Regions from separate parts of the Homo sapiens genome. Here region 2 is linked to region 1. The links come from fine-mapping of genetic effects on gene expression. A gene starts in region 1. The other region holds a variant in brackets. All regions are shown on one strand. Distances are between the middles of the regions.

What was found. PIP is the estimated chance that this variant, and not a neighbour inherited with it, causes the effect.
Region 2: its variant is the best candidate, but not a certain one, in a credible set for the expression of CHD1 in monocytes after Pam3CSK4 (Quach 2016, PIP 0.68).

The regions. Positions count from the first base shown.
Region 1 is chr5:98,924,205-98,935,275 of GRCh38, reverse strand. CHD1 (chromodomain helicase DNA binding protein 1) reads left to right here and starts at 6,269. Exons shown (of 36, transcript NM_001270.4): 1 at 6,269-6,737; 2 at 8,742-8,942. The coding sequence starts at 8,890. It overlaps CHD1-DT (CHD1 divergent transcript), which reads right to left and starts at 6,714. Exons shown (of 4, transcript NR_151718.1): 1 at 6,634-6,714. LOC100289230 (a long non-coding RNA gene) reads right to left here and starts at 6,142. Exons shown (of 1, transcript NR_036530.1): 1 at 4,267-6,142. RefSeq lists enhancers at 1,401-1,580, 5,536-5,865, 5,354-6,252 and silencers at 6,026-6,235, 6,496-7,125.
Region 2 is chr5:98,881,635-98,892,705 of GRCh38, reverse strand. It overlaps CHD1 (chromodomain helicase DNA binding protein 1), which reads left to right. Exons shown (of 36, transcript NM_001270.4): 15 at 1-181; 16 at 3,468-3,630; 17 at 4,466-4,618; 18 at 7,057-7,128; 19 at 9,469-9,618; 20 at 10,583-10,731. It also overlaps the pseudogene RNU6-402P. Among named protein-coding and RNA genes, the nearest start is that of CHD1-DT, 41 kb to the left of the region's middle. The variant A/T (reference allele first, on the strand shown) is at 7,779.

The DNA of each region.
Region 1 (11,071 bases):
TCACCTAGGGGAGCTTTTAAAAAAATGCATGTGCCAAGGCCCCACCTCAGAACCATGGAATATAATCTTGAGCATTTTTAGTACACAACTCCTCAGTTAATTCTAAATTTTGGCACAGCTGAGAATTATGTATCTTCTAAACATATTACTCTTCCCAGGAATATATGCTTTAAAACAGATTTCTATCAATGACTTTTCAAGCATTAGTAGAGGATGAAGTATAGATTTGTGGAACAGGAGGTTCTCAGTCTCAAATCACACCAATTAAGTGACCACCCATAGCCCGTAACTGTAAATGATGGTATTGTTCAGTTCCTGTTTGAAAAAAAACAATGAAAACAAATTCTCCCAAATCAGACTTTGAAGATATTAATGTATTTGTTTTTTAGATGATTAATATGTGCTAATCCTTCCACCTAATTCTTATACAGCAACTGGACATTATTCACCACTCTTTCCATGAAGCCTTACTCATCTTCAGTAGCGCAACACCCTGCTGGTAACTGTGTAACTCCTCCTTATCCAGTTCATCTTCCTCTACCTAGTCAAAAATAAACTGGAATTCTTCACTGCACACACTTAGGCTGTCTTCCAAGTTTACTTCATGAATACTCAAGACTTTAATTTTTCCCTACACACTTCACACTTAACAGCTTTAATTTTCAGTCTAGACTTCACTTAGCTCCATGGTTCTATCCAGAAACCTCCTGGGCAATTCAAAGGCATCAGAAATTCTGTAAGTCTTTTTTTTTTTTTTTTTTTTTCCCAAGACAGAGTCTAGCTCTGTCGCTCAGGCTGGAAGGCAGTGTCACGATCTCGGCTCACTGCAACCTCCGCCTCCCAGGTTCAATCCATTCTCCTGCCTCAGCCTCCCAAATAGCTGGGACTACAGGTGCATGCCACCATGCCCGGCTAATTTTTTAATTTTTAATTTTTAGTAGAGATAGGGTTTCAACGTGTTGGCCAGGATGGTCTCGATCTCCTGACCTTGTGATCCACCCGCTTTGGCCTCCCAAAGTGCTGGGATGAGCCATCACACCCGGCCCAATTCTGTCTTAAACCAAACGTAATGATCTCCCTATCTATACATCTCCAAATACATTACTATATAAGTGAATGTCATTCAGCTGCAAATGACTAACATCCCTCCTCCTCCTAACCCTGCCTGAATCCAATCCCATCAAGTTTTGTTACCCTTCCCAATTCTACTTCTCTCCACCTCCATTACACTATCCTAGTCTATCATGTCATTTCTAACCTCTCTTATCTGCCAAAGACTCCTGACTTAATTAGGAATACTGTATCTACTTCAACCCACATCTAATCCTTCTTTGGGATTTATACCTAAAGTAAAAACTTTCAATTTGCCAGTCCCATCAAGCTACCACCCAGTTTCAAATCCTTCAATAGCTTCCTCATTGTCTTGAAAAACATACTTCACTTAGCCTTTGGGCCTAGTGTCTATGTAGCCTCATCTTGTCCAGCTGCTGTTTGCTCCAGCAGAACCATGCTTCTTAGAGTCCCTTATAGATAGGATGGCCCTGCAATTTACTATCCAAACCTGAACACTTCTGAAAGTGAATACGGCCTGTTCTTGGCAAACTGGCAAGTGCACTGACGTGATCTCTCTGACCCCAGAATCTTTGCCCATGTTGTTTCTTTTACCCAGAAAGCAGCTCTTGTACTTCCCTTTCTTGCCTACCTAATTCATATTAATTCTTCAGCTCTAGACCACAACGATCACGTCACTTCCTTGAGACTTTTCTGACTAGGGTTCTTTATTATGGATTCTCACAGCACCGTATGTCTCTTCATACTATTTTTCTAAGTTGTCATTTTATAGTGTGACTGTGTCCTGAACTAGGCTTTAACTTTGAAAGTGTTAGTTTTTGCTGTATTATAATCCCTCCCTACCCTCAGCAGAATGTCTGGTATGTAATACATTCTTACATTTGTATTGAATGAATATCAATACAATGCACTGGGGCACAGTACTCTTTGCTCAAGGACCTCACAATGTAGTATGGAAACAAATGCTATATTGTGATACAATGACATGCCGCACTTACAGAATACTCAATTCCATGTCCTAAAAGGGAGGTCAGAGAGTTTTCTGACAAGTCTTATAGGTTGTCAGCACAATTGTGTCAAGGTACTCAACAGTTCTTGAGCATTTACTTAAACGAACTTATGAAAGACTGACCCATAAGATAAATGGGTTATATCCACTTACAATGAGAGATACCTTTCCAGTGACCTGAAGAAGTGTCTAGAGTACCAAGTGTCCATTAGGAATGATGAGAGGCAATACTGAGATTAGTCTGTGAAAAAATTAAGTAACTAAAATACTAGGAATATATGATATGTACATACATCTTCATATATGTTTAGTTTACAAATATATGTGGTATATAACAGGGGACTGATTTAGTTAGATTTCAAGTTTGAAGGAAACCTAAAGGATAAGCTGAAGGGAAAGATAGAGAAAATAGAGGCCTAAACTAAGCCCGGTAGTGGGAGTTAAAAAGAAAGGATGAATACAAAATTTCTGCATTAAAATGAGTGGTACCGTTTGTCCCTCAGTATCTGCAGAGAATTAGTTCCAGGACCCCCATTTACCAAAACCTGGGGATGCTCAAGTCCCTTATAGTTGAGCCTCTGTACCTGCAAATCCCTGCAGGTACAGAGGACCAACAGTATTTGGACAGCAGTGAATAAAGAATCTGGGCAAGGGCTGGGCATGGTGGCTCACACCTGTAATCCCAGCACTTTGGGAGGCTGAAGCAGGCAGATCACCTGAGGTCAGGAGTTTGACACCAGCCTTGCCAACATGGTGAAACCCAGTCTCTACTAAAAGTACACAAAATTAGCTGGGTGTGGTGGCGCGTGCCTGTAGTCCCAGCTACTTGGAAGGCTGAGGCATGAGAATCACTTGAACCCAGAAAGCGGAGATTGCAGTGAAATGAGATAGCACCACTGCACTCCAGCCTGGGTGACAAAGTGAGACTCTGTCTCAAAAAAAAAAAAAAAAAAAAAGAATCTGGGCAAGGAAATGAGTGATACAGCATCAATGCAATAATTTTTAAATATTTTTGAGGTTGGCTACTTAACCTTCTTTCTTACTCTGCGTGCACACTTAATTTTTCAGTAGAGGATGGAATCTTTGTATCTTCTTCAATGCCTATTAGATTTTATACATACTTGCCTCTTAGTATCATCTCTAACAATTTTCTGTTTGAAATTTAGCTTTTAGTGATTCAAGAATTTATCATTCAAAATCCCCAAATACAGTGACCATAAAGAAGGTGGATGAGCCGCTGGTAGATATCAGAATAATCTGGGAAACTTCCCAAATACTACCTAGAACCTAGAAATTCTGCATATCAGCAGAGGGGAAGAATAGGAGTGTCAGGCACGTGTAGTTACAAAAGAACTTTCCAGGTGACTGAGTCCTATCCCTTGCCCAACACTGGGAACTAAACTCCTCTAATTTCTTATTAGGAAAACAGAAAATGTACAGCAAATCTTCACTAGAAGATGACTTAGGATTTCATGGTTTCTATTCAGAGGACTTTGTAAATTTAAGAATCATATTGGAAAGACTTCCTCTGGTTTTGCAAGGACATGGGAAATACTGTCACAGGTTGAGATTCTAGGGTATTTTAATAATGTCCCGATTGTTTTTGTGGTTTCTCATATGCAAATCCTCCAGGCAACAAGGACATAATTATGGAATTAAAATCTTAACCCTGGCATCCAAAAAGCTAACAAAGGAGCAAGTTATCCTGTTTATGTTATATATTTCACAATTCTGGATATGTGGTTCCCAGCCTATCCCCACCTAAGGATACCCATTTAGTACTTTACCTAGTAAAGCATATCACAATTAAGGACCCACAAAATGCTGTCTTAGATTCCGGAAAAGTAATATTCTTTCCAAAGAATATGAAATTTTAAAAATGAGAAATTAAATAGTAACAAAAACCTCCTGGTTAATGTTAATTATGTGGAATTTTTCGTTAGTCATGTGTTGAGATTATCAACTGTTTGGCTATTGTTTTAGTACCACTAAGTAGAGATAAAGCTAGTTTATTCAAATAAAGTGACACTGCAAATTTAACTATGTTGATAACAAATCATCAAAAAGGTATCTTTGGATTACCTACACGCTTTTTAAAAAATGAACTGGCAAGATTGTTGCAATTTTCCACCTACTGTGTACTTCTGCAAAGCAATAAAGTATGATTTTACTCGAAATCTAAATCTCCAATGTTCAATATTTTATTACAAATTGGGCAAGATCTTTTTTCGAATAGCATGTTTGATGGCACAATACGACAGAATAGCATATTCAATGGCACAATTAGTAGTAAAAAAACAAAAAACCTGCCTGACGTGCTTCCGGAAAACGTAAAATAGACTGTATATACAGTAATTCTTTTCATAAGACAATGACAAAATGTCAGAGTTGTAATTGAGGACTTTATTAACTGAACTATACTTCTGATTACAACATTCTGTGTATGTTAATAGTTTCTCTGGAGAAATTACGGGCACAGGAAGTTCCTCTCATTAAGGATATTAACATAAAGCTTAATATGAAAAATTAGCACTCAGTTCAGAAATGACGACTTCAGAAATGACTTCAGAAATGACGATTTGTATGATCTTTTCATTCCTCACAACCCAGTATTAAAACTATCTAATATTGCAAAGGATGGTAGTGTTCCACTTCGTTTTGCTATTCAATTATTGCTGATAGATACATGTTTTCAAAAAGGCCATTGGCATCTGTTTGCTTTCTCCTACTTCTCCAAGTGAATACACCCTTCAATATGTAGTAAATACATATGTGGAGTTATGTTTTGAGATTTTTTTGAAGGATTTGAACCAAACTGTTTAAACAGCTGGTAGCCTAAAACTGGAATATTTCCCACAAGGGAAAAATAATTATTTGGGGAATGTATGTTACCACAAACTCATCTGACTTGGAAAGTGCGCCTTTACACCAAATCAAATAACTGAACAATGGGATTAGAAACTTTTAATTATTATTAACCTCGGCCACCGGGCGCCGTGGCTCACGCCTGTAATTCCAGCACTTTGGAAGGCAGTGGCAGGTGGATCGCTCGAGCTCAGGAGTTCAACACCAACCTAGCAACATGACAAAACCCCGCCTCTACAAACATAAATAAAAAACAAAAATCATTAACCTTGAGTGAGTCAAGTTCATCTGCAGACTGAAAAAAATAAAGTGTAACAGAATTTTGATTTAAAAAACGCTTTCAAAAAAGCATTTCAAAATGCTCTAAGTATGTTTCAAAAATACACTTAAAAATATGTTTCCAACACACTGAAGGGATTTAACTAAGATCCACAATTACAGTTACGATACAAACTGTAAGCTAAAAGGCAGCAACTTAAGCTGAGACAGTTACTAACATCCCTCGAGCAGCGTTTTTTGTTGCGATTCGGCGCCGCACCCGTCACCCCGCCCTCCGGGGAGGAACCTAGAAAGGAAGGGTGGTACATTTCTAAACCAGGCCACCCACACATGAATCAAGCGGCATCACAGGCTGTCAACAACCGGGTCTCTATTTTCTCTCCTCCTCCGGCGCCCCGCCCGTGCGGGACATCAGCTCCCAGGATGCGTCAATCGCAGATCGCCCAAGCGTAAGAGGTGGCGAGAGGCCACCACGGTTGCCCAACAGTTGCGTTCCCAGGCTGCCTGGTGTGACGCAGCAGCCCCCGCCCGGACCCTGAGGCCTGGCGCTCCGACTGAGCCGAGGCCTGTGCTACCCGACACTCCTTGCGACCCGGCCCCTTAGGCTTATTCAGCGCGGCCCTTCCCGGCTTCCCGAGTCCCATCGCAGTCTCTCCCCACCCCCGTTCCTCCCCGGTTCCTTGTCAGTGTCCGCCGCGATGTCCTTGCGCAACCATCCCAAGTGACATTAGCGCCCATACCCGCACGGAGCGAGCCTGAAGCTCCCACTTCCCGGAATTCAACGCCGGGCCGCTAAGGGCGGGCACCCAAGCGAGGATCAGCGGACTAAGGCCGCGACCAGAGTCCAGCGGTCTCCGCGCAGTCAGAGTCCGACAGCCTCTGCGCATCCGCCGTGCGCACTCCCATTCGTGCGCGTGCGCGCACTCGCCCCCCCCGCCCCGCCCCAGCACCAATCGCTTTTTTCCTACGCCCACGACCCTTCAACGTAGTCCCTCCCGCCTCCCGCGCGCGAGCAGAAAGGCTTCGGCGTGCGCGCGCCCGCCCGCCTCGCGCTCTGTCGGGAAGGGGAGTGAGCAGAGGCGCTTACGTCGCGCGGGAGGCGGAGGCGACGGCGACCTCGGTGGCGGCGGCGGCTACGACGGAGACGGTTGCGCTCGCTTGCTTTCTCGGCGTCATGGCGGCTGCCGGGGGCAGATAAGCGGAGGGAGCGGGAGCGCGCGCGCGACGGCGGCGGCGGCGGCGGCGACGACTGGTTACTTATAGCTCTTGCTGCCCTCGCCCTTGGTGCTTCAATAATGAATTGTTAGCTCCACTCCGCAGGGGATCGCGCGTTGGTGCTGCGGACCGGGGCTTCCCCTTCCCCTCCGCGTCTGTCCCCTTCCCCCTCCCCCGCACGGACTCTTGCTTACCCCGAGACGCCGGAGCCCTAGGACTGGGCGGCGGAGATCCCGGGCCTGGGCGCGGGGGAGGCCGTCCACCCGAGTCGGCTCCCTCCGCCCCGCCAAGCCCGCCGGTAAGAAAGGGGGCGGCGGGCGGGTCAGGATGTGGCGGAGAGGACAGGAACCGGCCGGGCGGAGGGCGGGCGCGGCGCGGTGCCCAGGCGGCGGCCCAGCGGCCGGGTGAAGGCCGGGTGGCTCTGTGAGTGCCGGTGGCGGTGTACGGGCCTGGCGCGCAGGGGGCGTGTGAGCGGCGAGTACAGGCCGGGGCCGCAGAACGCATCCTTGCGCCGGCCCGGCGGCCCTGCCCCGGCCTCTTCGGCTTGGTGCCGACCGGGCCGCGAGAGGAGACCCGCGAATGGCTAGCACTTAGCCGGTGCGTGGGTCCTGCCGCGACCCGGGCTCCCAGCACGTGGGGAGCGGCGGGAGGGGGAGGGGGCGGCGGCTCGGGCGAGCCTGGGAGGGCGCGGGGCGGGTCTGCGGGAAGTTTGAGGCGGGAAGAGGGACTCCTGGACCGGGATGGAGGCCCTGGGAGAGGGGGGCAGGTCCGCGAGGGAGGCTGATTGGAGCGCGCTGGATGGATGAGTGAGGATGGTTTCCAAACCTCTTTCGAGTGCCGCTTTAAAAACTTAGCAGGAGCAAAGCAACTGCTAAAAGACAGAGGATTGAAGAGGTTTAATAACTTAGGGTAGTCATTGTGGAGACGCTTGAGAGGACACAGCGCTGTGTGCGCTTGGAGCTTCAGAACTCAGGGTTGTGAAAAGGGTCTCAGAGGACTTATTCGGATAAGGGAGATGGAGGGGAAAGGAAGTTAAAATGTACAGAGAAAGCCATTTTGAGGGACGAAAGGAAGGTGAAAAGGAAAGAACGAAAAGGGGAGTGAACTTTTTAAAGGAAGAAACGGGAAAGGCAGTTTGTTAACATACTTAGATTTTTTAAGACTTAATTGTTCAGTAAGGCACTTTGACTAGGGTTGAGATTAATATTTAACATTAGGAATAAATGTTGAGTAGAACGGTTACTTTTTAGATAACCTGTTCTTGCAGAGTCTACTGGACAGTAGTCTAGAGAATTAACATCCTGATCCAGATGCAGACTTTGCTATCATTGAGTTGGTAACAATCTGTTTCCCTCCCTCTCTTGTGGAATGGAAATAATCGTAGGAGTGAATTCTCTTTGCTGAGGTCGGAGGACAGCTCTGCTCTCAGTTGGCTGTCTCGGTACTTTCTGGCTGGGGAAGGATCTGACGTCTCCTTCCCCCGCTTCTTCCTCTCCCTCCCCTGCCAGAGATCTCCTTTGTTTATTCGTGGATGGCTTGTAGGTGATTCTTCAGTGTTGTACTGAAATCTTTAAAGGTGGAAATGGTGTGTCTTGGTTCATTATTCTTGCCCCAAATTTTTTACGTAAAAAATCAGATATAGTGTATATTCTATTACCTTTTCAATTTTTTTCACAAAATAAAAACCAAGTGCAAACTGGTTAAGTATTATTTAAATGTTATCATCCCACTATCCGTTTACCTGTTAAATAACACATTTATTTTGAGCTATGCATTTTTGTTGAGAGTATATGGTATCTTTTATTTGCCTGTTCCTCCCATGGGAGCGTTTTCAGAACTTTCTCACTCAAGTGTATGAAGTTCTTGGTGATAGGAGTGAGGGCTTGATTAAAGGTAACCTCCTCCCACCCCCCCCCCCACTTCATTTATTCGACCAAGTTATCTAATAAGACTCCGTTATCTACTCTTGGGATGTATGCATATGTTACATCGTATCACCTTGCTTTAGGAGTCTATAAAAACATTGTTAGTTGCAGTTAGTCTCTAAAAATCCTTTCACTCCACAAATATTTTAATTTTTTCTGTCCGAAGTATATTAGCAGTAGCATACTAAATTCTAGTTAGCAGTCAGGAGTGTAGTTATTACAAGTCTAGATATTTTAAGTATTTAATAAAAGGCCCCCACTTCTTCCTTAACAGCTGTAGTCTAATTGGCCTACGTAGATTTATACGTTTTAGACAGGGCTTAATTTACCTTTTTTCTGCAGGAAATTTTGTTAATTTATTAATATATTTTCTTTAGGTGAATCAAAGGAGAGTCCCAGAAAACCTGTGACTGTTGAAGAAAATTCATCTGTGAATTTTTATATTCAAGGAGTCAGTATTTATATTCATCTTTTAAACTGGGAAGATTTATATTTTACTTTAAAACTTCTTGATAATAATTTACAATGAATGGACACAGTGATGAAGAAAGTGTTAGAAACAGTAGTGGAGAATCAAGGTAAGTAAGCACTTTGTTATCAATTGTTTACTATGAAGAGAGTTGAAAACTTGACTTTTTTCTTTATTGTTATTGTTGTTATTTAGTTTTCCTCATAGGTAGCAGAGTTTTCAGGTTTTCCTCTTAGCTATCCAAATACTAAAAAAATTCTGATATACGAACCTTTTTTCATAATACAGGTTTTAATTATATTTTTCATTCAGATACACAGTAGATCTTAAATATAGAAAGTTTTTGTTTACTTAAATCTATTTGGAAGTTTATATTTGAGCTAATAATTAAGCTGGAGCATGTATAATAGATTTAAATTGTTTTGACTGTTAGTGAAATTTCTAGATGAAGGCAATAAAAATTTTTTCACTCATCTTTTTCTGGCATTTTGTCTTCTATACCTGTACTGTCCAGTGTGGTAACCACTAGCCACATGTGGCTATTTGAACTCAATTACAAAATATTCAGAATTTACTTAGTCATACTAGATATATTTCAAGTGCTGAATAATCACATGTGGCTAGTGGCTACCATATTGGACAGCACATAGAAAACATTCTATCACTGGAGAAAGTTTTAGACAGTGCTGAGCCAGACATTTGTTGAAATATTACTGTGGCCCTTTTTTATTTTCAGATTGGAGTTTTAATTATCTGTGAAGGAGTTAAGAGTTCTTGCTTGGGTCAAGTGTTTGCAAAGAAGATTCTTTAAATTCTGTAGCTCTCAAATTTTGAGTTATCTGCACATTAGTTTACAATCCATGTAGTTATATGCATTATCATATATAGAAATTAGGAATGTGGGCACTGGAGTCAAACTGTTTGCTTACCCTATTTCTACCTCTTATTAGTTGTGTGAATTAGGGCAAATTACTTAATCTCTGAGGCTCTGATTTTTGCCCCATAAAGAGGGGATTAAACTATTGTTTATCTTATTTAAAGTTCACGGCTGGGCTTGTTGGATCCTGTTTGTAATCCCAGCACTTTGAGAGGCTGAGGAAGGAGGATCACTTGAACTCAAAAGTTGGAGACCAGTTTAGGCAGCATAGTGAGACTTTGTCTGTAATTTATAAAAAATAAAATTTAAAAAAAATTTGAGGATTGAGATGCTTCATGTAAAGGGCTTAAAATATTTTCTGAGATAATGAGCACTGAATATTTGCTTATTGTAACCAGCATGTTTTGTGTAACACAGGATACTATATAAAAAAAACATTAATTACAGTGATGGAGACATGGGGGTGGACAAGAAACAGGAAAGTTTTGGCAATTAGGAAGATTAAGAAAAAATGTTAGATAGAAAACTAAATAGTGGTATTTGTATTTGATCTGAAACTTGGACTTTTCTTTTTCTTTTTTTTTTTTTGAGACAGAGTCTTGCTCTGTCGCCCAGGCTGGAGTGCAGTGGTGTGATCCCGGCTCACTGCAACCTCCACCTCCCAGGCTCAAGTGTTTCTCCTACCTCAGCCTCCGGAGTAGCTGGGATTACAGGCGCTAGCCACCACTCCCAGCTAATTTTTGTATTTTTTTTGTAGAGATGGGGTTTCGCCACATTGGCCAGGCTGGTCTCGAACTCCTGGCCTCAAGTGATCCACCTGCCTCGAGCTCCCAAAGTGCTGAGATTATAGGCATGAGCCACCACGCCAGGCCTGACACTTGGAATTTTCTGACCTTGCTAGTTATACTTTAGTTTATCAGCTTTCATACATACTGTTTGGATAAGCAAGAACATCATAGAGAATAAAATAAGGAACAGTTATGGAAAGCAGCATTATTACTTGAACAAGTATTGGTCTAGGAGTTATACAACCTGAGTTGATGCTATCTCTGCATTAATTAAAACTCATATGATTGCCTCAACTCTAAGGATTGAACTGATATTGAAGTTTCATTTTAATTAATTACAAAGTGCATCGTAAAGTTTCAAACAGTAAAGTTTTACTAGAATCACCAGAGTTGAGGTTTAATTAAAAGACTTTTGAATCTGAGCTTTGATTCAAATCTCTATAGGTATGTTGACTACTGACTATAGTTAAGTAAATAGAAGAGTCATATTGTCCACCCACAATTTTTTTTTTCTTTTCTTTTCTTTTGAGACAGGGCCTCACTCTGTCACCCAGGCTGGAGTACAGTTGTGTA
Region 2 (11,071 bases), 43 kb after region 1:
CCTGGGAAGATTTTGAAGAAGAACATGGCAAAGGGAGAGAATATGGTTATGCAAGCCTTCACAAGGAGCTTGAGCCATTTCTGTTACGCCGAGTTAAGAAAGATGTGGAAAAATCTCTTCCTGCCAAGGTTGAGCAGATTTTAAGAATGGAAATGAGTGCTTTACAGAAACAATATTACAAGTAAGCTGTACACAGAACACAGTTCTGAACTTCTAATTCTGAAAACCTTCCATGTCTGTGTCCTGCTTTTGGTGCCCCCACCTTCTCTACAATAGTGTCTTAGAGCAGTTGCAATTCTCGAGTTTCAGAATAAGTTTATTCTGTGTCGTTAGGAGGCAAAAGGAGATTTAATGACATATCCAAAATTATGAGTGACAACACTGAGTAATTCATCTTCTGACACATAATTAATTGCTTTCCTATATATCATACTGTTATCTTATAAAGAGTTTAAGTGTTAGGATTTCCACAATAATAAAGGTATTATATGATTATGACAATTAACAGAGGCCAAAAAAAGAAACTTAGAAAAAAATTTTAGGCTCTGCTGCTTTTTGAAGAGTATTAACAAATCATAGCTGGTATAAATTTTGTATGTCAAGATCTATACAGTAGGACTTTTCAAAGAATCAGAAAGGAAAATCTGTTCTAATATCTGTTTAAACATTTAATTGCATAAAAGGAAATATATTGCTACATGCATTTGGAGTTTCAGAAACATTTATATTCTATGGTAAATCTATAGGTGCCATACATTTGAAAGAATATACTTAATTGCATAATTATTTTTATTATGGAAGATGTCAGACATATACAAAAATAGGATAATTTAATGAACTCTTATACCCATGACTCAGCTTCACTTTCTTTCTTTTTTTTGTTTGTTTGTTTTTTGAGACGGAGTCTCCCTTTGTACTCCAGGCTGGAGTACAGTGGCACAATCTTGGCTCACTGCAACCTCCACCTTCTGGTTTCAAATGATTCTGGTGCCTCAGCCTCCCAAGTAGCTGGGTTTACAGGTGTGCCCCACAATGCCCTGCTGATTTTTTTATTTTTAGTAGAGACAGGGTTTTGCCATGCTGGCCAGGCTGATCCTGAACTCCTGGCCCCAAGCGATCCACACGCCTCAGCCTTCCAAAGTGCTGGGATTACAGGTATGAGCCACTGTGCCCAGCCCCAGCTTCCCTTTCAACTCATGCCAGTCTTTTTATGTATCTCTGGTCATCCCCATTTCCCTCAGTACCTGTCCTTTTGAAGCAGATTGGAAATTTTTCCATAAATATTTTTCTGTGTATTTCTAATAATTGATTTTTAAAAATACTAGTATCACCTGGGCCCAGTGGCTCATGCCTGTAATCCCAGTACTTTGGGAGGCTGAGGCAGACAGATCACTTGAGCCTCAAGAGTTTGAGACCAGCCTAGGCAACATGGCAAAACCCTGTCTCTACTCAAGATACAAAAAACTTAGCCAGGAGTGGTGGTGGGTGCATGTGGTCCCAGCTGCTTGGTAGGCTGAGGTGGGAGGATCGCTTGAGCCCATGAGGCAGAGGTTGCAGTGAACCGAGGTCATGCCACTGCACTCCAGCCTGGGTGACAGAGTGAGACCCCATCTTAAGTAAATAAATAACCCACTTTAAAATTTTCACAATTTAGGAAATTATTGCTCTCTCAGCAGAATCAATTTCTTGATACCAATATTCAGTATCAGTGTTCAAGTTTTCTCTGTTGTCTCAAAAAATTTTTTTACGTTTACTCGAATTGGGATTGAGATAGGTTCATATATGGCAATTGATTTGTCTCTGAGTTTATTATCTATAGGTACTTCTTTTTTGTTAAAATGTATACGATGGGGAAAACAGTTATTCTGTAGAATTTTTCCACAATCTAGATTTTGCATAGTACTTCCCTCTAAAATAGTTTAACAGTATCCTCTGTATTTCCTACAGATTGGTAGGTAGATGTAGGTGCTTGATAATATTCAAATTAATAATTATGAGAAGAGTATATTTTGTAGTACACAATGGCGATTATCTAATTTTGTTATGGGGTTCTTTAAAAAAAGTAATGCATTTTGTAGAATATTTAGAAAGAAAAGTCAAAGTAGGAAGAAGACACATTCACCTGTAATTCTCTTAGTGCTAGTCATATATCATGGATGTTGAACTTAAACTCTTCAAGGTACTTTTTGGCAACTAAGGTAATAAGATACTGCCATAAATTTCTGGAAAAATTCTTAGAATTTTTACCTCTAGAGAAATTAATAATAAATTTTTTCTGGATAAGGAAAAATATTCTTTATTCTTGATTACCTCTTAGGGCATTGAGCATTGTCCATGGGTTTCGTTTTGCTTTTCATTCCAGTTTTGGGGAACTGCCTGTATAACTAGTGGTAAAGAATGGTAATAAAAGAGTATGTACACTAGATATTTGAGACTTTCAAGTCCCTTCAAAAACTGACCTTGTAAAAAGGAAGAAAATAAAAGGTGGAAAAGGTCATGGTGAGAGGAAATTTTTCTTTTCTTTTTTAAATTCAGCTTTTATTTTAGATACTGGAGGTATATGTGCAGGTTTGTTACATGGGTAATATTGCATCCAGGTAGTGAGCATGGTACGCAGTGGGTAGTTTTCAACCCATGTTCCCCTCCTTCCCCCCTCTAGTAGTCGACAGTGTTGTTACATGTTTATGTCCATGTGTGCTCAGTGTTTAACTTGCACTTGTAAGTGAGAACATGCGGTGTTTGGTTTTCTGTTTCTGTGTTAATTCACTTAGATTATGGTCTACAGCTCCATCCATGGATATTATTTTATTTGAAGGGCATTATTTCATCCTTTTTTTTCTGTGGCTGTGTAGTATTCATGGGATATATATACAAAAATATGGAGTGTTCATGGATTTGCATGTCATCCTTGTATGGGGACCATTCTAATCTCTGTATTGGTCCAGTTTTAGTATAAATGCTGCCGAAGTGAGCACAGGAATTGTTACATGTAGTTTGGAGTAGTAAAATATCACCAAGATGTTTTCTATAAGTTACATATGTATTGTGTAATTGCAATCTAGAGAAGGCAGTCGTGGCTAAAACCAGGTATCCTCAGGTTTCTTTTAGGTCCATGCAAAATAATTCAGTTTCATTAGCTGTCTAATGCAGTAAAAGTTGTAAGAAGATTCAGATAAATAATGCAGCTGACCATCTTTTTAGCAAATTTGAGGGGAAAGGATTAATACACTGTAATAATTATGTTACATTAGCCTGTTCTGTGTATAGCTAATGGTTCAGAAAACAAGTTGTGTTCTCATGAGTATTATGAAAGAGGTTTGGTCCGTTGTATATACAGCTGTGAATTTTATAACGGTACAGTTTTACTTTGGTACTATCGTTGGCTTTTTTTGTTTGTTTTAATGCTTTTAGAATTTATCCTGGTAATTGTTCTGCTAAACATCGTTTTCATAATTTTTTTTTTTAAGATGGATTTTAACTAGGAATTACAAAGCCCTCAGCAAAGGTTCCAAGGGCAGTACCTCAGGCTTTTTGAACATTATGATGGAGCTAAAGAAATGTTGTAACCATTGCTACCTCATTAAACCACCAGATAATAATGAATTCTATAATAAACAGGAGGCCTTACAAGTAAGAATTTTTAAATGTTGTTTCTTTGTGATAAAGTTCTAGAAATGTTGATTTCACTTACAATCGAAAATGGCTCAATGCTTTAACTTATTGGATAAAAGTTCTCTTTAGTTAATGGTGCCTTTCTATAATGGTCTCAGTTATTAATCTTTGTAGAAAAGACTTTAAAATTCTAATTTATGTAATTATTTTGATGAATTTTCTAAAAATAGGTCTCTCAAACCATGGCCTATAATAACTTATCCAGCAAGAAAATCCCACAGTATGTTCATAATTATGAAAAAATCGTTAATAGTAATTGTGCTGCATTTGTGATTTGGTAAATGGTAATCTAAAGGACATCTTGACCTCACATCTTAACCCTTCCTGGTACTTCTGGAAGATAAGTCAGAAGTGCGAAGGCACAGCTGCAATCCAGCCACTGTAGTGCATTGAAGGGCTAGGATCAGCATCTAGAATTAATACATTAGAATGCATTTGCTTACTCTTTTTAAACCTTTGGTTGCTTAGTTGCTGCTGCTTCTGATGTCATTGTTCTTCAGCTAAGATTTTTGGAGAAACACTGTGGTATAGTAACTAGCAAACAGAGTGAACAGTACTTTTTTCCTCCCCGATAGTATAACAAAACCTAGGTGTGATATGGCAAAGGGTATTTTAGCTTCAGTCATAGAGTGAAATGGTAAAGGTCTTAGAAAATTTTGAAAAGTGAAATAAGTTGTTTTCTAACATGAAAATTTAAAATCTCAATTTAAAATAATTCAGGCAACTAAAGTGTTACGTGGACAACTTACCATTTATGTCTTTTAACATATAACAACTTGAATTGTTTCTGTAGCACTTAATTCGTAGTAGCGGAAAATTGATTCTTCTTGACAAGCTATTAATTCGCCTAAGAGAACGAGGCAATCGAGTTCTTATTTTTTCACAAATGGTGCGGATGTTAGATATACTTGCAGAATATTTGAAATATCGTCAATTCCCCTTTCAAGTAAGCATTTAATTGTATTTGTTGTTTTAAATTTTATCTAATTCCTGTGCATATTTTACAGAATTAACTGAAATTATTTTATAAGTGTTTAGGTTTTTATATAAACTGTACTTTTTCTTTAAAAAGATGTATCTGCTTTAAAAAATATTTGTCATTCCCGGTTTTTCTTGACTTTACATATTGCAACAAAACAATTTTTCTTCCTTTCCTGTGATTTTTATTTTCTTTTAATTCTGTCTTTTTCTTCTATGCTTGCTTTAGATTTTAAAAACTGAACTAAGGCAGAATTTTCTTGATTGGATAGATCTAAAAGCAGGGGAGCCTTTAGTCTTCAATCTGAATGAGGAAAACAGCCAGTAGTCTCTGAATGTGAATGCTGCCAAGATTCTGATGATTGGTGTGCTCATAGTTATCTGACACAGGGTTTGTTGAGTAAAACTAGACAACTTTACAGAAGAAACTAAAGACCAAAATTCCCTTCCATCTATTCAAAATTTATATTGAAGTTCATTCAATATAACTAAAGCTAATATTGATGAGTATTTAAAGTCAGGTGCTGTTTTCAGTACTTCAGATCTAATTACTTAATTCTCAAAGCAATTTTATGAACAGTACTAGGAACATAGCAGACATTATGTAGATACAGCTAGTAAATGCTGTATATTTAGTGCAGATAGTAAAATAGCAGTAAAATTATAATAATGGGACTGAACACACAATCCCTGCTTTGTCAGAGCTTATCATCTCTTACAGGAGACAGACATCAAGCAGGTGATTACAAATAAATGTAACATTACAATTCTGGTAAGTGTTGTGAAGAAGGACAGGTATTTGGTGATAGGAATATCATTGAGAAATAATTGCAGTCATTTAGGGGAAAACGTAGAAGAGTACCATTAGTTGAGGTTTTTGAAAACACCTTTATTGATACGTAATTCCCATATCATACAGTTTACTCATTTAAAGTATACAATTCAGTGGTTTTTACTATGTTCACAGATGTGTATAATTGTTCGACAGGTGGTTTTAGAACATTTTCATCAGAAAGAACCTGTAGCCTTTAGCTATTCCTCTTGTCCTTCCATTTGCCTTCCTCTTCTGCCCTGTGTTGATTTGTTTTTAAACAAATTATTGTGTACATAGTCAAACAAAAAATTAGTTTGACTAATTTTGAGTGTTAATAAGCGCCACTTCTCTGTTGCTAATTCCTTCTCATTCCTAGGTCACTTCCTGGAGAGAATAATTTTTAATTTTATTTGGTTTAGGTCATGCCACAGTAATGAGATGCCACTATTCTTAAAATTTGTACTAATATGTATTTTAGTGGAAAAGAAAAATTATTTTAATTTTTTAAAACTTTAATAGACATGTTTTCCTACTTTGAGTAGGTGATAATTAAGAGCACTTCATTTAAACCACTTAGAATACATCATTTAAAATGTTTATATTTTTTCTTCGCAGAGTTAAAATTCATATAGTAACAAAGCAAAGGTAGGCATATGGCTTCCCAAAATACTAGTTTAATTCGTCGGTTAAATGCATGGATCATAGTAGACAAGTTATTTCTAGTCTATAACCAGTTAATAATTATAAAATCATTGCCATTTCTAAAGTGAAATAGCAGCTAATGTTTAATAAGCGTTCAGTATGTTGTAGGCACTGTGCTACATGTTTTCCTGTGTTCTCTCACTGAGTTCTCTATAGTCTATGAAGGAGGGACTACTATTATGTCTGTTTTGTTTAAAGCGGAACTGACATGGTGAAAAAGTTTGTGGAGAAAAGTCAAATCACTTGCTCAAGATACCAAGTGAATAAAATACTCATTTGCTGGCTGTTGACTAGAACCCATGATGCTTCACATCAATAATTTTCAAACTTTAGTGTGCATCAGAATTAACTGGATGGCCTTTGCTAAACACCTTCAGTAGGTCTGGGGTAGGACTCAATAATTTGCTTATCTATGTTCTCAGGTGACACTAATGCTGTTCTAGTAACCACGCTGGACTTAATCAGTGTTTTTAAAACTGAATTGTAACCTGTTAATGGATCTGTGAATCAGTTTAATGGGTTGCACCAACATTTTGAAAGTAAAATGATAAAACATGAGAGTATAACATAGTATATCATGTCATGATATGAAACTGTTTCAGGTGTTTGCAAACAGCTATGTACTCAATCACATACTTTTAGAATGGGGACTCAGGCAGAATAGTATGACAGCCTATGCTGTATTTACTCTTGAGGGTGCAGTCTTAGTGATTTGGAGCACAGACTAAAGACAGAATGCCTGAGCATTATTTTACTGTCTAGTAAGTACTTTCTATTATAGTTTTAGCAAAGGACATGCTTCACATTTCTACTTAATTTTATAATTGATTTTAATTGCTTTGTAATACTTTGATTCTGTTTATGCAGTATTTTAATGTGTTTTTTTCTAGAGATTAGATGGATCAATAAAAGGAGAACTGAGGAAACAAGCTCTAGATCATTTTAATGCTGAGGGATCAGAGGTATGTATTAGTGCTTTTAAAATTATAAATAATTTTGATTTAGTATCAGTATATTACATTATTATATTCAGACATTTTTAATCTTCATATCTAGTTTGATAAAAAAAGAGTGGTGTTAGCCACCTTTGATTAGCAAATGAGGTTTTAAAGTCACTATTCTAGTTTAAACCTAAGGATTTTATCTTTGAGACAGAGTCTCACTCTGTGGCCCAGGCTGGAGTGCAGTGGCACAATCTCAACTCACTGCAACCTCTGCCTCCCAGGTTCAAGCTATTCTCCTGCCTCAGCCTCACAAGTAGCTGGGATTACAGGCGCGTGCCACTGTGCCCAGCTAGTTTTTGTAGTTTTAGTAGAGATGGGGCTTCACCATGTTGGCTAGGCCGGTCTTGAACTCCTGACCTCAGGTGATCCACCTGCCTCAGCCTCCCAAAGTGCTAGGATTACAGGCATGAAGCCACCGCGCCCAGCCAAGAATTTTACTCTTTATTATCAATAATGTTTCAGCATGGAACAGTTATTTTAATTTGCTTCAAAATAAATTAGCCAGATTGGGCACAGTAGCTCACCCCTGTAATCCCAGCACTTTGGGAGGCCAATGCAGGAGAATCGCTTCAGACCAGGAGTTTGAGACCACCCTGGGAAACAGTGAG[A/T]CTGCTGTCTGTACAAAAAAAAATAAAAATAAAAAGTAAAAAAAATAAACTGGGCATAGTGGCACTCGGTTGTAGTCCCAGTTACTTGGGAGGCTGAGTTGAGTGGATCACTTAGCTCAGGAGTTTGAGGCTGCGGTGAGCCATGATCATGTCACTAGACTCTAGCCCAGGCAATAGAGTGAGACTCTGTCTCAAAAAAAAAAAAAGGGAAAGAAAAAACCCAAAAACAACAAAGTAGCCCACTTTCCTTTAAAAAAAATTTTTTTTATTTCCGTGGATTTTTGGGAAACAGGTGATATTTGGTTAAATGAGTAAGCTCTGTAGTGGTGGTTTGTGAGATTTTGGTGCACCCTTCACCTGAGCAGTATACACTGAACCAAATTTGTAGTCTTTTATCGCTCACCCCCTCCTACCCTTTCCCTCTGAGTCCCCAGAGTCCTTTGTATCATTCTTATTACTTTGCATCCTCATAGCTTAGTTCCCTCTTACAAGTGAGAACATACAATGTTTGGTTTTCCATTCCTGAGTTACTTCACTCAGAATAGTAGTCTCCAGGCTGGGCGTGGTGGCTCACGCTTGTAATCCCAGCACTTTGGGAGGCTGAGACGGGCGGATCATGAGGTCAGGAGATCGAGACCATTCTGGCTAACACAGTGAAACCCCATCTCTACTAAAAATACAAAAAAATTAGCTGGGCGTAGTGGCGGGCGCCTGTAGTCCCAGCTACTCGGGAGGCTGAAGCAGGAGAATGGTGTGAACCCGGGAGGCGGAGCTTGCAGTGAACCGAGATCGCGCCACTGCACTCCAGCCTGGGTGACAGAGCGAGACTCCGTCTCAAAAAAAAAAAAACAAAAAACAAAGAGTTAGAGACCAGCCTGGCCAACATGGTGAAACCGCATCTCTACTAAAAATACAAAAATTAGCTGGGTGTGGTAGTGCCTGCCTGTAATCCCAGCTACTCGGGAGGCTGAGGCAGGAGAATTGCTTGAACCTAGGAGGTGGAGGTTGCAGTGAGCCAAGATAAAAAGAGTGAGACTCTGTCAAAAAAAAAAAAAAAAAAAAAAAATATATATATATATATATATATATATATATATATATTTAGTCTCCAATCCCATCTAGGTTGCTGCAAATGCCATTATTTCATTCTTCTTTATGGCTGAGTAGTTTTCCACTGTGTATGTATACCACAGTTTATCTTCTTGTTGATTGATGGGCGTTTGGGCTGGTTCCACATTGTTGCAGTTGCAAATTGTGCTGCTGTAATCGTGTGTACAAGTATCTTTTTCATGTAATGACTTTTTTGCTCTGGGCAGATACTCAGTAGTGGGATTCCTGGGATCAAGTGGTAGTTCTACTTTTAGTTCCTTTAAGGAATTTCCACGCTGTTTTCCATAGAGTTCTTTTTTTGGTATATGCCTTTTATTTTTTAAGGAAATAAAATTTACAGTTAGAGTTGAAGTGTCATTCCTTTCCTATCCCGTTTTCTTTCTTTTTCACCAGAAGTAAACACTGTATTGAATTTGGTGTTAATAACATATATATTTGATTTTGGAGTCTTTTTGTTGATTGGTCTTGCTAGATGTTTATTAGTTTTAAAAACTGCCTTTCTGTTTAATTAGTACCATACTGCTTACGTTCAGAAAATCAATTGAAAAATTTTTCATTTTGATTATTCAATTTCTTACAGGATTTTTGCTTTTTGCTGTCCACAAGAGCTGGAGGTCTAGGGATTAATTTAGCCTCTGCTGACACTGTTGTTATATTTGATTCCGATTGGAATCCACAGAATGATCTTCAGGCACAGGCTAGAGCCCATCGAATTGGGCAAAAGAAACAGGTATTTTTAATTTTAATTTATATTATATTGCTGTTTTAGAATTCTTTTTTTTTTTTTGGAAGTGATTTCAGTTTATCCTCTAGAGGATAAGATCACTGTAACAGTCATACTACTGTTTAACCGATAGGATACTGAGGAGCTTGGTTTACCAAAATCACCTGGAGAGTCTGACAGAATTGAGATAACTATGCATATATAGGATCATGTATTCTGTTTTGATCCCGTATTCTAGTCGTAACTATAAAATGCAGTGTTTTTCATTTTATAATAAAAACTTTAAAACGTCTTTACTTGCTTATTTTAACTTGAAAGGGAGTTTGAGTAGCATATGCTACCTTTCTGTTAGTCTATATTTTGTCCATGTGCTTACAAGATTCTCCACATGTAAACGTGACCCCATTTTATAATTGTAACAACATACCCTTAAATGGTGGTACTGAACCTTTACCTAGAGAAATAGGGAAAATTTACTGCAGAATCTTTGACCTAGAGAAATAGGGAAAATTTACTACACCAATTCTTTTCAATTTTGGAGAGTTTGTTTTATGGTGGGTTTCTTATTAACTTGGGGAGTAGTTCATAGAATTTTGCATTATATAGAGTGATGAAACATTAGAATCAAGGCAACGAGTATAAGAAGGCTATCAGAAGTTTACATGCCCCCCCCCCATTTTCCCCAGCTAAATCATAACATAAAAATTACTGTCATTCCTTTAAAAAAAAATAAGCAAATGCAATCTCCTTATCAAAATATTAAGAAGGAAGGAAGGATATAGTTTCAAAATAGTCCCTTAAGTTGAGGAACTCTAGCTTTAAACATGTTTTTTAAATTTTCATTTTGCTTTTAACCAGTGAAAACTTCATATAGAATGAGCTTCAATTTGTGTGCCAGTGTTTAGGCACTTGAGGTTAGCAAAACAAATCCTTTATACTGCAATTTGTTTCCTCATGTGTATTTTTACAGGTGAATATTTATCGTCTAGTTACAAAGGGATCAGTTGAAGAAGATATTCTTGAAAGGGCGAAAAAGAAGATGGTTTTAGATCATCTTGTAATTCAAAGAATGGACACAACTGGGAAGACAGTACTACATACAGGTTCTGCCCCATCAAGGTGGTTACTTGATTATTAAAAAAATGTCATTTTAGAGTCAGTAAACTCATATTTTTGATATGTTACATCACTGTAGATCATTGAGGAAATGTATTCAGAGTTGTACTTTTTATATTTTGGAAGACTTTGGACTAATTTCTAGTTAGAAGACATACTTCAAATACCTGGTTTCATCGCTACAGATTTGTAATTTTAGGGGTAATCTCTTTCACTTCTATGCTTCAAGTTCCTTATTTTAAAATAAATATACTGCACTAGGCAACATAGTGAAACCCCACCTCTGCAAAAAATAAAAAACTTAGCTGGGCATGGTGACACACAACTGTAGTCCCAGCTACTC